Linked DNA regions of Homo sapiens. The protein of the gene in region 4 purifies or fractionates together with the protein of the main gene of each other region. This does not show direct contact. Each region holds a gene or a part of one and is shown on either strand. Other genes may lie near its edges. The genes, in order: SRRM1, GINS2, CSTA and PLEKHG4B.

What was found.
Region 1: the proteins of PLEKHG4B (region 4) and SRRM1 purify together in Homo sapiens (affinity purification with mass spectrometry; one large-scale study listed by BioGRID and IntAct). This does not show direct contact.
Region 2: the proteins of PLEKHG4B (region 4) and GINS2 purify together in Homo sapiens (affinity purification with mass spectrometry; one large-scale study listed by BioGRID and IntAct). This does not show direct contact.
Region 3: the proteins of PLEKHG4B (region 4) and CSTA purify together in Homo sapiens (affinity purification with mass spectrometry; one large-scale study listed by BioGRID and IntAct). This does not show direct contact.

The regions. Positions count from the first base shown.
Region 1 is NC_000001.11:24,646,293-24,649,884, forward strand, and holds part of SRRM1 (serine/arginine repetitive matrix protein 1), read left to right. Parts: intron 1-374; coding exon 375-497; exon of another isoform or gene 498-2,566; coding exon 2,567-2,737; intron 2,738-3,592. UniProt on the Homo sapiens protein: Part of pre- and post-splicing multiprotein mRNP complexes. As a component of the minor spliceosome, involved in the splicing of U12-type introns in pre-mRNAs. Involved in numerous pre-mRNA processing events.
Region 2 is NC_000016.10:85,678,955-85,682,454, reverse strand, and holds part of GINS2 (DNA replication complex GINS protein PSF2), read left to right. Parts: intron 1-773; coding exon 774-873; intron 874-3,500. UniProt on the Homo sapiens protein: Required for correct functioning of the GINS complex, a complex that plays an essential role in the initiation of DNA replication, and progression of DNA replication forks.
Region 3 is NC_000003.12:122,335,175-122,338,766, forward strand, and holds part of CSTA (cystatin-A), read left to right. Parts: intron 1-2,372; coding exon 2,373-2,474; intron 2,475-3,592. UniProt on the Homo sapiens protein: This is an intracellular thiol proteinase inhibitor. Has an important role in desmosome-mediated cell-cell adhesion in the lower levels of the epidermis.
Region 4 is NC_000005.10:158,092-161,683, forward strand, and holds part of PLEKHG4B (pleckstrin homology domain-containing family G member 4B), read left to right. Parts: intron 1-3,592. UniProt on the Homo sapiens protein: Guanine nucleotide exchange factor (GEF) which specifically activates small GTPase CDC42 by exchanging bound GDP for free GTP.

The DNA.
Region 1 (3,592 bases), on a different chromosome or scaffold from region 4:
CGAGGCGGGCAAATCACAATGTCAGGAGATTGAGACCATCCTGGCTAACACGGTGAAACCCTGTCTCTACTAAAAATACAAAAAATTAGCCGGGCGTGGTGGCGGGTGCCTGTAATCCCAGCTAATTGGGAGGCTGAGGCAGGAGAATGGCACGAACCTGGGAGGCGGAGCTTGCAGTGAGCTGAGCACCACTGCACTCCAGCCTGGGCAAGAGTGCAAGACTCTGTCTCAAAAAAAAAAAAAAAAAATTAGCAGATTCTACTATGCCAAACAAAAAAACTAAGCTAAAAGGAACTTTGGTAGACAGAACTCTAACTTGAGCATTTTTTTTTAGGATTGTGAAGTTGTACTTAATTGTTTCTATGTTTCATCAGGTGGACATGAGCAAAGTAAATTTGGAGGTTATAAAGCCTTGGATAACAAAAAGAGTAACGGAAATCCTTGGGTTTGAAGATGATGTTGTGATTGAGTTTATATTCAACCAGCTGGAAGTGAAGGTACTAATATACAAATGGCTCTTGTTTCTGAATATGTGATATAATTTGTGAATCTTTGGAAACTGAATTTTTTCTATGGAGTGCAAATATAGAAGGGTTATTTTACAATGTTTGTTGTGAAAAGAATTCACTTTGTAAACAACTATTAAGGCTGGAAGTTTAGTGAAGGTGCATAGTTTTGAAAGCTACACAGGTGAAAAATCAAACTTATTGTTTGTAATTTTGCTGTTACATGTTAAGTTACTTTGACAGCAATTTTCTAATGATAATGTGATTTATGATTTAAAAGGCCTGAACCAAAATGGAAGTTATTCCTTGCGTCTGAAGTATAGCACCATCACCTTATTAGGTCACAGCAGAGTGAGTGTCCCAATGTCGCTCTGACCCAACTCCCTTGATGATGCAGTGTGTGTTTGGAGGTGAGTTGTGTAAAGTGGCCAAACATCAACAACAACAACAAAAAACACAAACAGGAAAGAGCAATTGGGTAAAGCTGTACACTGCTCTTTTAAAATACTATTATGAGATGGACATTTATGTGAAGCATGAGGGGCAATTCTGATTTGATTGGATATTGTTTTTAAAGGAACTAAGGTCTTTGTAGCTGCATGTCAGCTAGTCATCAGTTACATTTTAGAGACAGGATTTTTGTTTATACTTAAACTTCAGACAAATTGGCAGCATATAATTGTTCCTTTATACATGAGATAATATGATGATATAACTGATGTTTAAGAACATTCTTATTGTAAGACAGTTTCTGTTTTGCCACAGCAACCCAAAGGACAGTTAAGATATGTACCATATGACCTTTTTGCATATATACCAATGTGAATTTACTTTTACATTAATCATTTCCCCCAAAGAGTTCACCCTATGTTTTGACAGAACAGTTGGCATTTCAACTGATAAGGTATTTCTAGTTTTAAAATAATTTGGTGTTTGTATTTTGTTTTGAATATTTTTAAAGACTAATTTTAAGAATGCACTTTCTATAAAGTATATGCATCTTAGAAAACCAGGAACAGGGGAGAAAGTTTTTTAAATGATGATTGAAGATAGATTTTATTGGAGAAATGCTTTACTGATGTGTATTTTAGTGCATTTTAAAAACCTAAGTATCTGGTAGTATTCCCCTTGTAGTGAGCATGAGATTAAAGTTTAGAACTTTTTAAGACAATTCTTTTTTTGTGGTTGTGTACTCATTATTGCTTGTTCGTCTTTTGCAATTTAGATAAATGATATAACATTAAACTCAAGGTGGTTGAGTTGCAGTAGGGAGTCGGAAGCAAGCCAAGGGAACATCTTTCTCTACAGGGGACTTGGCGATTCCAAACCCCCAAGGTTCCAAGAAGAAACTGAAGACACCTGGAATCTGTACTTGCTTTGTGCTATTGAGCTGTGCTTGTTATACAGACCTTGTTGCTTGACCAACGGATTTAGCATTTAAAAACCCAATTATTTTTGAGAAATCTTGACCTCTTAGCACTTTGTGGACAGTTGAGAATTTGAGGCATTGTTATAATAGATTTTCCTTATATAAAACTCAGGCCTTTAGCTTAGCCCTCAGAAGTTACAGACTGCATGCATAACTTGTTAGTTTTCATAACTGGACAATAGATATTTTATGCAAAGCTATCTGTAGTGTTAGGGAGCAGTTTATGTACTTTTTCCGTTTCTCATTGGGGGAAAATTTCCAGGCAAGCAAATACTTTTCTTGTTAGTAAATACTAGAATTTGTGGATGTTTCATGATGGTTTTTAAAGTTAATAAATGTAAGGCCCACTAACAGCCACAGAGTCTAAAAATACTTACGAAATCCACAAAGGATTAACAGGCTGCTCTGATGCTTTTGGTAGAGTGAGAGAGAATTTGGTAATCTGTTAGAGATTATATTGCTGAGAAGCTACTAGGGAAGACTATTTGTAAAATAGTAAGGACTATATATATGTCTAAGCCCCTATGGTAGACTTAAAAAATACTAATTTAAATGAGTTTTAGGTTGGTTGATTTGTTGGTTGGTTGGTTTTGAAGTAACCTGTTTTTCTTCCTGTCGTGTCTTTTTGCAGAATCCAGACTCCAAAATGATGCAAATCAACCTGACTGGATTTTTGAATGGAAAAAATGCTCGAGAATTTATGGGAGAACTGTGGCCCCTGCTGCTAAGTGCACAAGAAAACATCGCGGGAATCCCTTCTGCTTTCCTAGAACTGAAGAAAGAAGAAATAAAACAAAGACAGGTAATAACCTTTTCTTTTCTGTAATGTCGATTTGAGAGTATTGGCCAGGCTGCCGAGACACCTTAGGTAGTATATGACTCAGCTAGGATCTTCATGTAGTTTTGCTTTGCTGTACTGTATTTAAACATTCAGTTTTGGTTCACTGCTCCTCCCTCCAACCAAACATTGAGTTTAGAATGTCATTTTCCCAGTCTAGTGATTTGCTAGATTTTTACAAATTCTTAATATGTGAGTGCATGTAGCTTAAAAGAAATTTGAATTTAACACTGAAAGGTAAGCATAAGGATTTTTGGTTTGTTGTTTTTTTGAGACACAGTTTCAGTCTGTCACCCAGGCTAGAGTGCAGTGGTGTGGTCTCTGCTCACTGCAGCTTTCACCTCCTGAGTTCAAGCGATTCTCATGCCTCAGTCTCCTGAGTAGCTGGGATTACAGGCGCACACCACCACATCCAACTCATTTTTGTATTTTTAGTACAGACGGGATTTTGCCATGTTGGCCAGACTTGTCTCGAACTCCTGACCTCAAGTGATCTGCCCGCCCTTGGCGGGATTATAGACGTGAGCCACCGTGCCCAGCCAGCATAAACTCTTAATATGGGCAATACAGATGAACTCCCAGAAAGAATAAGGTCAATGTGAAAGTGATTTTCTTTTTTATTTTATTTTTTATTTTTATTTTTATTTTTTTGAAGTAAGCTTGAAAACATCTCTTTAGTTCAGGTCTTAGAGATTAACTTTCAGTGAATATTTATTTGTAAATGAGTGGCGATAATACCAGTCTTAATGCGTATCTGTAGTGTAGGTGAAGAAAGAACAGGTCTGGTTCAAAAGAAGAGGCCGATGAAATGATAATAGC
Region 2 (3,500 bases), on a different chromosome or scaffold from region 4:
AACCCCCCTAGGATATTGTATCGCGCCCAGGCTGGGGTGGCTCTAGTTTTGTAAGTTGTCTTGCTCCCTTCTGAACAAGGCTTAGTATAAATAAATTTAAGTCACTGACTAGTTTGATCACTTATTGCATCAAAGGTCTAATACTGACCAGGTGACTCACTCCTATAATCCCAGCACTTCGAGAAGCTGAGGCAGGGCGATCACTTGAGCACAGGAGTTTGAGACCAGCCTGGGCAACATAGTGAGACCTTGTCTCTACAAAAAATAAATGGTGGCATGTGCCTGTGATCTCAGCTACTCCTTGGGAGGCTGAGGCGGGAGGATTGCTTGAGCCCAGGAGGTTGAAGCTGCAGTGAGCTGTGATGGTGCCACTGCACTCCAGTCTGGGCATGAGAGAGACCCTCTCAAAAAAAAAAAAAAAAAAAAAAAAAAAGGCGGTAAAGGTAAATCACTTTGCTGTTTCCCTAAAAAAGAAAAAAAACAAAAGCAAAACACAACAAACATCAAACTTTTGACTCTAACATTGTTTTTAGGAATATCTTCTGCAGGCTAAAGCAGCGACAAAAATTTACCTTTCTTTTGGAGAGAAAGTTTCAAGGAGGAGGCCTCAAATCATCTAGATAATGATACAAATGTCATCCCAAAATGTTTTTTCATGTATTTGCTAGTTGATAATGTATTTGCCAGATAATATAGGCACTTGGTAAATTTGGAAGGTTTAATAAATATCTTGGTTATAATGATGGTAAAATGTATTAACTTCTAAATTTCAGAAAAGTTGGAGAAGATGAGGGATCATGAACGAAAGGAAGAAACTTTTACCCCAATGCCCAGCCCTTACTACATGGAACTTACGAAGCTCCTGTTAAATCAGTAAGTAGATCTCACCTCTTAGAGGCCACACCCAAGACTGGACTCGCCATGCCCTTCCCCTAACCCTCGTCCTTCCTCTCCGCTTCCCTGCTTATTGCCTCAGTAAGTGGCAACACTGGCCGCCCTGTTTCTCAGGTCAGTGACCATGAGGTCATCTGTGTACACACACCTGCCAGGTGCACTCTGTCTGTCTCTGTGTGTCTTTCTGTCTGTTCTTTGCCTTTCTCTGTCTCTCATTTTTCCTTTTCTCCACTTCCCGGTGAAGCCCTTGGCTCTTTTTGTTCTGCCTCACATCACTCGACATTGGACCCCAGTGTGAGCCACCAGCATCTCACAGAATCGGCAGTAGCCATTCTTTGCCATGTATGTGTTTTATTTAGCACAGCTTTACTCCTGTTTCTCCTTGGAGTAGGTGGATTTGAGTTTTTTTGTGTCTTTCGCAGGAAAGGCCAGAGGGCTTACATTTGCCTCTGTCCTTGGGTTACAGGAAAGCCCACTTCCTGGCAAAATCATGCTGTAGTAACTCCGTAGCTTGTTTGCCTTCATCCATACTGGCTCCGCTCAGCTTTCCATTCATTCTTCACATCTCAGCCAGAGGGGCCTTTGAAAGGCAGAACTGCCATGTGACTCCCTGCTTAAAATCCTGTCTTCCCTCTCGTCTACCTGAGCGTGGTGTTCAAGCAGTGTACAGCCTAGTGCGTGCTCCTCCTCCCTCTTTCACCCTCTCTACAGCTCTTTTCTCTGCTTCTGGAGGGCTCAGGCTCACACTGGCCCCTGTCACTTCTTCAAGCATTCTGACTTTGCATATACTGTTCTCTGCCCTGTAAGTCTGTCCTTTCCCTGCCCCTGCTCACCTCTGCTGGTTAGCATAACATGTCTCTTCTGGGTTCAGCACACATGTACTCTTGGCAGCTCTACACATTGCTATGGCATTTGCCAGTTGTAATTTTCTTGTTTGCCTGGCTGTGCCATCACATGTACCCATTCTAAATGGGCAGGGGCTGGGTCTCGTATGCATATGTCCCCAGTGAGATGCCTGCGGCTCATGTTTGTTGAGTGAAAGTGAAACTAGTGAAGAAGGCAGACAAGGGTGGATAATTTTGCTTGGGAGATACTTAGAATGTCATTTGTACAATTTCAAGCTTCTGAAGCTCCCCGGGTATCCTTTAACTGGGTTCAAGAGCAGAACTAGAATAAAAAATTGTGACACTAGTACTACTGCATGCTGCAGAGCAGCAGGAAGGGCTGGGAGCCCACTGAATGGCGCTGCTGAATTTAAAGGAAAAGTTGGGGACACAACATGGGCTTGTGCTTAGGCTGAGATGAGGCTGCAGTCAGCCCATGAATTTCATAAAAAGCTGAGAAGCAGCAATGCACCAAGCATTCCACTCGGCAGTGGCGTTTGTCCCATAGGCCTGCTTCCTGGTGTGGTGCGGGAGAGATGTGGGCCTGGGAGCCTATAGTGAATCTTCAGTGTGACCAATGCTCTTGACAGTCCATCAGAGCGCAGTAAGGCCAGGTGGTGCCAGAGAGGGCTCACAGAGGTTTGCTGGGAGTGCAGACTTGTAGGAGGTGGACGGTAGGGGAGAGGGCAGTGAGGCAGGAACTGATATGCTCAGGCAGAGTGTGAAGGACCTGGTGTAGCCGGGCAAGCAGAGATATTTGAGGATGTGTAGTACATTCATGGGAGCAGAGGAATGGAGGCATAGGTTCTGCTGCAGTGGCCAGCCCCTGGGAGGGGCATGTGGCCTCAGAGGGACCTGAGAGAGACTGTAGTGGTGGTGGGGATGGTAGCTGGAAGGGAGAGGATCTATAAACAGGCTAGGTAAGAATTTGGCATTAGCTAGGTGAGGGGGCCTATCCATTTTTTGTTTTTGAAGTTCAATATATTATGGATGTAGTTTTTATCAAAAACCTTGTTTTATAATTCATTCGGTTAAGGGACTTAATTTTACGTTTGTTCTATAGTTCAGCTGACGAGGAGTTGGGGTCCTTTGTCCTTTAACCTGCTGTTGAGAGCACAAGATCTAAATGTTTGGGTTTATAAATAAAACTCACTACATAAATTTTGTACCAGTGGTTTGCCACTTACTCATCAGGAATTAATTGTAGCATATGGAGAGAATGTCTAGCGTAACCTGTAATGCCTAGTGACGAACAATATTTGCTTCTGCTTTTATCGTGTAGTTTTTCTTCAAAGGTTAGTTTAAAATACTTCACAACGGGAGCCTCGACTTTGTGAAAGCCTTCCTTCATCCCTTGCTGGCTTTGAGCTTCTAGCCAGAATTTTGCTATGTGTAGGTGTGCTCACTGTATACTAATTTGCAGTTTCTTCTGTGATTTTTGAAACTTGTTTTTGTCTTCTCTGAAGAGCAGGAGAGTCCCTTCCCTTCAGGGCTTTTGTGAGGATAGAAATGCCAGGTAAAGTGCTGAGCCCAGTACCTGGCATGGAGTTGGCGTTTTCCTTCTCTAGGCTGTGAGCCCTGGATTCCTGGTGGGGAATAGGGAGATCTGCTCAACACTCTGTAAATGAGGAGCAATAGAACTCGACCTTTGAGCCAGCCCTCGAAACTGATTCCTTGTAGATGGAGGTTAGGCAGCACGGAATGCTGTTATCCTGAGACAGA
Region 3 (3,592 bases), on a different chromosome or scaffold from region 4:
GGTTCGGGAATGCTGACATTTAAACCCAACCCATATCCCTCCATGGTAGACAGAATGATGGCCCTCCAAAGATGTCCATGTCCTAATCCCTGGAACCTGTGACTAGGTTCCTTTACACAGCAAAAGAGACTTTGCAGGTGTGATTAAGTTAAGGCTCTGGAGATGGAGAGGTTATCCTGGATTATCCAGGTAAGCCCATGCAATCACAGGGTCTTTATAAGAATTATACCCAAATACTGCACTCTAGTTAGTATATTGTTTTCCACAGGGGTATAGGTCAACAATTCTGAAATTATTTTATGTATATGCTAGAACTGAGAAAATAGGCGAATACATTGCAAATAATAAGAACCAGGATTCTTCCTCAGTGTTTGAGAAAGGAGTTATAATAAGGAAAAGGGAAAAGCTAAATGAGTCCTGTGGTATTTGATTTATTTTATTATTTATTTATTTATTTATTTATTTATGTATTTTGAGGCAGAGTTTCACTCTTGTTGCCCAGGCTGGAGTGCAATGGTGTGATCTCGGCTCACTGCAACCTCCGCCTCCCAGGTTCAAGCAATTCTCCTGCCTCAGCCTCCTGAGTAGCTGGAATTACAGACACCCACCATTGCGCCCAGCTAATTTTTGTATTTTTAGTAGAGACGGGGTTTCATCATGTTGGTCACACTGGTCTCAAACTCCTGACCTCAAGTGATCCACCCGCCTCTGCCTCCCAAAGTGCTGGGATTACAGGCATGAGCCACCACACCCGGCCGTGGTATTTGATTTTAATCAGAGGAATACACACACACACACACACACACACACACACACACACACGTACACACACATATATAATGTATATATATAATGACACACAGATAAATGTGTGTATATATGCACACACATACACAAATGCGTAAAGATGTGTGCATGTGTGAGTACACATATTATTTTGTAGCCCTTTCCACTGAGTGGGCCTAGAAGCAATGACATTTAGTAACAAGAGACACAGCACCCAAATCTTGGGTCTTAAATACCGTTCTCCAATAAAAGGAGCAGGGACTCCTTGGAGAAATAGTTGATTCCAGTGAGGAGGCAAGGAAACTTCAAGATAAACCTGGAACATCTGACTCTACTTTTGTAGAGTCAGAAAGTAAGGAAGTGCTTATAAAATGATGGAGGCATGTTGAAAGAACACAGGCATCAGGTGAAGGAGCTCCCAACGGCCAAATCTAGGGCATTTGAGTAACAAAATAGAGTAATGAATTGTAATCCACAGAGTAAAAGAAATATCCATGAGTCATATTAATATAAAATAAGTAATTGACTACATAAAGAGGAGAGAGGGAACAGCTCTTCCTTATGGCAGAATTCCAGATAATAAATGCACAAGAAATGATTTTTTAATTACCATTTGGCCAACACCACAATTAATCATTGTTGTAGGCAAGAACCATCAATGGATGCTAAAATTCATGTATGAAAGTATGGCGAGAAACAAGACTCCTCACAAGACACTTACTAATTACAAAGGGGAAAAAAATGGTAACTTTACCGTGGAGAAACCTGGCAGACATCCTAAGTGATCAAAATTAACATCACCAGTAATGAAACGTAGCTCCTGATAGGATGCACTTAAGCACAACATCACGTTTGTGCTATCCTTACAAACATGTATAATACTAACATAAGAGGAGATCACACAAACCTAAATTGAGAGACATTCTACCATTTAACAGGCCAGTATTCTTCAAAAACATCAAGGCCATGAACAAAAAGGAATGAACCCAGATTGTAGGAGACTGAGGAGAAATGACAACTAAATGCAATGTAGGATCCTGCATGAGATCCTGGAGCAGAAAAGAGACATTTTCAGGAAAACTGGCAAAATTCTGATAAGGTTTAGAGACTACTTAATAGTATTATACCATGTTAATTTCCTCATTTTGGTGATTATACTATGTTATGTAAAACGGCAAAATTAAGGGAACTGTAAATGATATAAGAGAATTCATTATACTAATTTTACAACTTTTAAGTCTGAAATCATTTTAAAATAATGTTTTAATCAAGTAGTAATTATTGCTCCACTGATTTTTATTAATCAAAGATACATATAACTCTTAGAGTTTTAGCAGTCAAAACGCTCCTATATTGCATTACCACACTGAGTTGATGTGAATTCAGCCTAAAGCAACAAAATTTGACTTTTTAACCTATGTAATTGTATTAAAACAGGTGTTTTCTATTGAAATAATAAAAATAGTTCATAGATTTCATTACCATCTTTGAAGACTTTTAGGAGGATGAGGTTCCCAGATGGGTACATTGCATACATGGAGTCTAATATAGCTTTGATTATTTGTTTCCTCTTTTCTTTTCTTTAGGTTAAACCACAGCTTGAAGAAAAAACAAATGAGACTTACGGAAAATTGGAAGCTGTGCAGTATAAAACTCAAGTTGTTGCTGGAACAAATTACTACATTAAGGTTAGAGTTCAGCACCTACTTTAGCGCCAAAAGATGTATTTCTCATTTTATGTAAAATATTCCCTGATTTCCCTACCACATAATTCCTTCCTTACGGTTGTCCTAAATTAAGATGCCCAGCATGATTCCTTCCAAGTGGTGGACTCTCAAATTTGGTAGATGATGTGACACCATTTTTTTTCTTGTGAATTCAGAAAGTTTTATTACATTGATTCTTGATTTCTGGAAATTGTATAGAAAAAGATTTCATAACAGTTCAGGGCATGCTGGATTTGTGGCTGTGCTGCTGCTTAGGTAAGGAGGGAGGATCACGTCTCATCTGCCTGAAGGTGTGGGGCTGGACCACATGGTATCTTGAAGCTGATTCTACCTCAAAGCTGTATGATTCTCTATGTCTAAATTAAATAAATTAAAGTAACGACTCAAATCATTAGCTGGGAAAATAATTTAAACCTTTTTTGCCCTTCAATTAATATAATGTAAATACTATTTTGTAACTCAAATTAGATTTAACTTGTGGCACTCTAGGCATAGTTTAAAAGAGTGGAGTATTTAAAATAGTTTAAAAGTTAATTTTATAGCTCTGTCAAAAAATTACACAATGCATTGATCGAGTTCTAATTGAAGTTATCAAGAGGAAACCAGTTGAACAAGTCAACCATGAATATTTGAGAGCCATGTTTGTCCTTATATATTAAGAAGATGATAATGCTGATTTTAAAAATAAAAACAAATATTCAAGTATATTTACTTAATCTTTACTTCACTATTTGACCAGGGCACAGTGTGGCTTATTTCTCTTTAACAAATATTTCTATTAAAATATAAACATTTTAAAAGATTTTTTCAGCAAAAAAAAAAAAAAAAGTAAGTGAAGTAAGTGGAGCTAGTCAGCTCAGCATAAGAAAGTTTCAGTACAGAGCTATGTACACAGATCAGCCCTGTTCTGCCAAATGTGAGCTCCTAGTAACGACCAGGTCCCGGGGAGACACATGTGAAAGAGGACCCTGCTGTATCCTCAGAAAACAATGGCACCATTTCCTCCATTCTCAATCTGCTTTCTTCATGGCTGGAAAAGAAAGTTTTCCAGTTAAAAATGATTATGTGCAAAGATAGGA
Region 4 (3,592 bases):
GCAGCCACCAGCCAGTCCGGGCTGTCTCCAGTCTGTGCCCTCTGTCCTGGGGGTCTCCTCCATCTCCCCTCCTCCCTCTGCTCTATCCTGGCTCCATCTCCCCTCCTCCCCCTGCCCATCCTGGGGGTCTCCCCCATCTTCCCCTCCTCCCCCTGCCCATCCTGGGGGTCTCCTCCATCTCCTCTCCTCCCTCTGCCCATCCTGGGGGTCTCCTCCATCTCCTCTCCTCCCTCTGCCCATCCTGGGGGTCTCCTCCATCTCCTGTCCTCCCTCTGCCCATCCTGGGGGTCTCCTCCATCTCCTCTCCTCTCTCTGCCCATCCTGGGGGTCTCCTCCTTCTCCTCTCCTCCCTCTGCCCGTCCTGGGAGTCTCCCCCATCTCTCCTCCCACTGCCTATTCTGGGGGTCTCCCCTATCTCCCCTCCTCCCTCTGCCCATCCCAGGGGGTCTCCCCCATCTCCCCCTCCTCCCTCTGCCCGTCCTGGGAGTCTCCTTCATCTTCCCCTCCTCGTTCTACTCCGTCCTTGGGGGGGTCTCCCCCATCTCCCCTCCTCCCTCTGCCCATCCTGGGGGATCTCCCCCATCTCCCCTTCCTCCCTCTGCCTGTCCTGGGGGGTCTCCTTCGTCTTCCCTTCCTCGTTCTACTCCTTCCTGGGGTGTCTCCCCCATCTCCCCTCCTCCCTCTGCTCTTCCTGGGGTCTCCTCCATCTCCCTCCCCACTCTGCCCCATCCTGTGGTCTCCTATTTCCTGTATCCAAGTCTTCCTCTTTTTTCATTTACTTTGGCGTTTTATGCAGAATAACTTCCAGGACTTCCCAGAGAAAGGGATCTTGGGGTGAGCATTTTTGAGGCCGTGGTATCTAAAAGCATCTCTACTCCACCTTCATGGCCAGCAGTCACTTTAGTTTCCCTTCGCCAGCTGGAAGGCCCTGCGCCTGTGCTTAGCTTCCATCCCACTCCCAGCCTTCTGCCTGTGCCCTGCTTCTCGGTGGAAGCCACAGACTTTCCTGTCGTCCTCGGGGCTCTGGAATCTGAGGGTTGCCCAGGTGCGCTGAGGGCAGGTGTGCCCGAGGGTCACCCAGGTGCACTGAGAGCAGGTGTGCCTGAGGGTGGCCCAGGTGTGCCTGAGGGTCGCCCAGGTGCACTGAGGGCAGGTGTGCCTGAGGGTCGCCCAGGTGCACTGAGGGCAGGTGTGCCTGAGGGTCGCCCAGGTGCACCGAGGGCAGGTGTGCTCTTTGTGTCTGCACTGCGCCCCTCTGTTCTGGGAATTCTGTGACATCCTTCGTGGCGCTCGCATTTCCCACAGCTCCACACTTCCATCTGGTTCTGGAGTTTTCTGTCCTGTTGCCTTAATTTTCCCCACCCCTGGCTGTGTGCTGTCCTTGTAAGGTAGATTTTTCTCAGCTTTACCCTCTAACTCTATTATTGAGTTTTTTGTTTCTGCTCTTGCTTTTTAACTCCATGGGCTTATTTTCTGAACAGTCCCCTCTCCATACTAATCATGATGAGTCTGCACAGTCTGTGGCTTCTGTGGGTTTGTTCTGGCGCCAGAGGCTTTCCTGGCGACCCCTGGCTAGGAAGCCTGTGGCCCACGCATCTTTAGCATTTTCTCCCTGGCGGTCTGATTCTTTTCCTCTAATCCCGGCCTGAAAGGAGAGCCTGGCCGTAGCTCAGTGTTCACCTGCCAGGGAACAGACCCTGGGCCCTGTGGAGCAGGGTGCCCAGCTCCTTCCCTCCGACACTCCCTCACCCTGTCCTGTGGAGTCTCGGGACTTGGCCTCTGCTCTCCTCAGGCCCTGCCACTCCCGCTTCCTTCCCGGCCTCCAGGTTTGTGCCCTGGCTGCTCTCTGCCCACCGTGCTGAGTGTTACGCCTTGGAAGATGCTTGCAGGGCTTTAGTGGTGTCTCAAGAGGACACGTCTCACTCTGCAGTCTTCACCCAGAAACTCCACGTTGTGACCGGACAGGCGATCCTGCTATGTATAGGTGCACGTCTGTCTCTATATATTTAACCTAAAAAGTGCATGCACACTGTGGGAAAATTAGAAACAAATAGATTTTTACACACGGGATGCCGCATGTGGCGGCCTCGGCACCCTGTGTGTGGGCATGCGCTGCAAGCTCAGTCCCCGAGCCATGTTCACACGGCTCCCACACTGAAGGCCCTGGGCTCCTCCCCTCTCTGCTGTTAGAAACTCCCCATGTTGAACATCTCTGTGTCTCTGCTTCCTTCACAGCCTGTGGGTGTTGACTCTGGATACATTCCTAGGCTCGGATGGCTGCGGTCAGACCATTTGTTTTTGGAGGTTTCCACGCATAAGCCGTGGCACTCCAGCCGCACCTGCCTCCCGCCGGCTGCCCCGTGGGGAAATGGAGCCCCTAAACAGTGTGCCCTCAGATTTTCTATGCGACAGCTGGACATTCTCTTCACACGTTTATTATTTTTATTTCTGTAGTGAATTACTTGTTCATGCTTTAGACAGTTTTTCTAGGGTTGATCATCACTTCTGTCTATGTTATATGGATCCTTCATGTTCTGCTTGTTTTCCTAGTTTGTCATTTGCCCTCTAGCTTTGCTTATCTTTTAAACAGCCCTTTCTACCTTAAGTTATAGAATTATTAGTGTATTTCATCATAGAACCTTTATGACTTGAATTTTTGTATTTAAATCTTGAAACCAATGACAGCCGATTTTTCCACAAAGTTGGAGGCCAGGCTCCAGCTCTGCGCCACCCCCACTCTGCTCTGCCGAAGCCGCACCTGCCCCTTGCCTGGCAGTTGCAAGACTCTGCCCGTGCTCCTAAGAATCAAGATGCTGTGATTTTCTTCTTGACTCTGGCTCTGTTTACAGACAGCGTATGTGCTGGTCTGTCTCTCCTCTGCTGCATGTCTGGGGTCATTCGGTACCTTCTGATGGTCATGGATCCAGGCAGCTGTTCTCTTCTTCACAACAGGCCTCTCATCTCTGGGCATCTGACCCCTAGTCGCCCCTGGTGTTGCTGTTTAACGACAACATGAAGGGCTTACCTCTGACATTTCCACTGAATCCAGCAGTAAATGCCTCCAAAATAAGAACCTTGGTCTTGTCACCAGGGCGCGTAGCCACAGGCGCTCCGTCCAGCAGGGCTCAGCCAGGGGCTCCCCCATCTTTCCCAGGCAGCCTCAAGGGGCCAAGCAGCCACTGGCCTGAAGAATATTTCTGGAATATGCTTACCATATTAACCAGTTTCAAAATGGAAAGTCCTGGATCTATTGTTCAATGATTTTAATGTCCTTTTCCAAACAATGAAAATAGTTTGGAGCTTGAGCCTCAGAGGCCCGTGCCACCTCTCATCAGTCGTGTTCATTCACGGGTGGTTACGCAGCCAGGCTGTCAGCCCTGTGCAGCGTGTACTCAGGACATGACCAAGACGCATCCCTCCCTCGGTCCTGCTAAATCCTAGAGTGTGACTTCTTCGCATGTTTAAATATAAAATGTTCTTCCCCTGTGTAGATCAAATCATAGTTTGGAAAAGAACTAGAGAAATGCCTCGGTCCTTTGGTGCCTGCTCTCGAGAATGAGAGGCAGCAGCAGGCAGCACTGTGGGCCGTCCG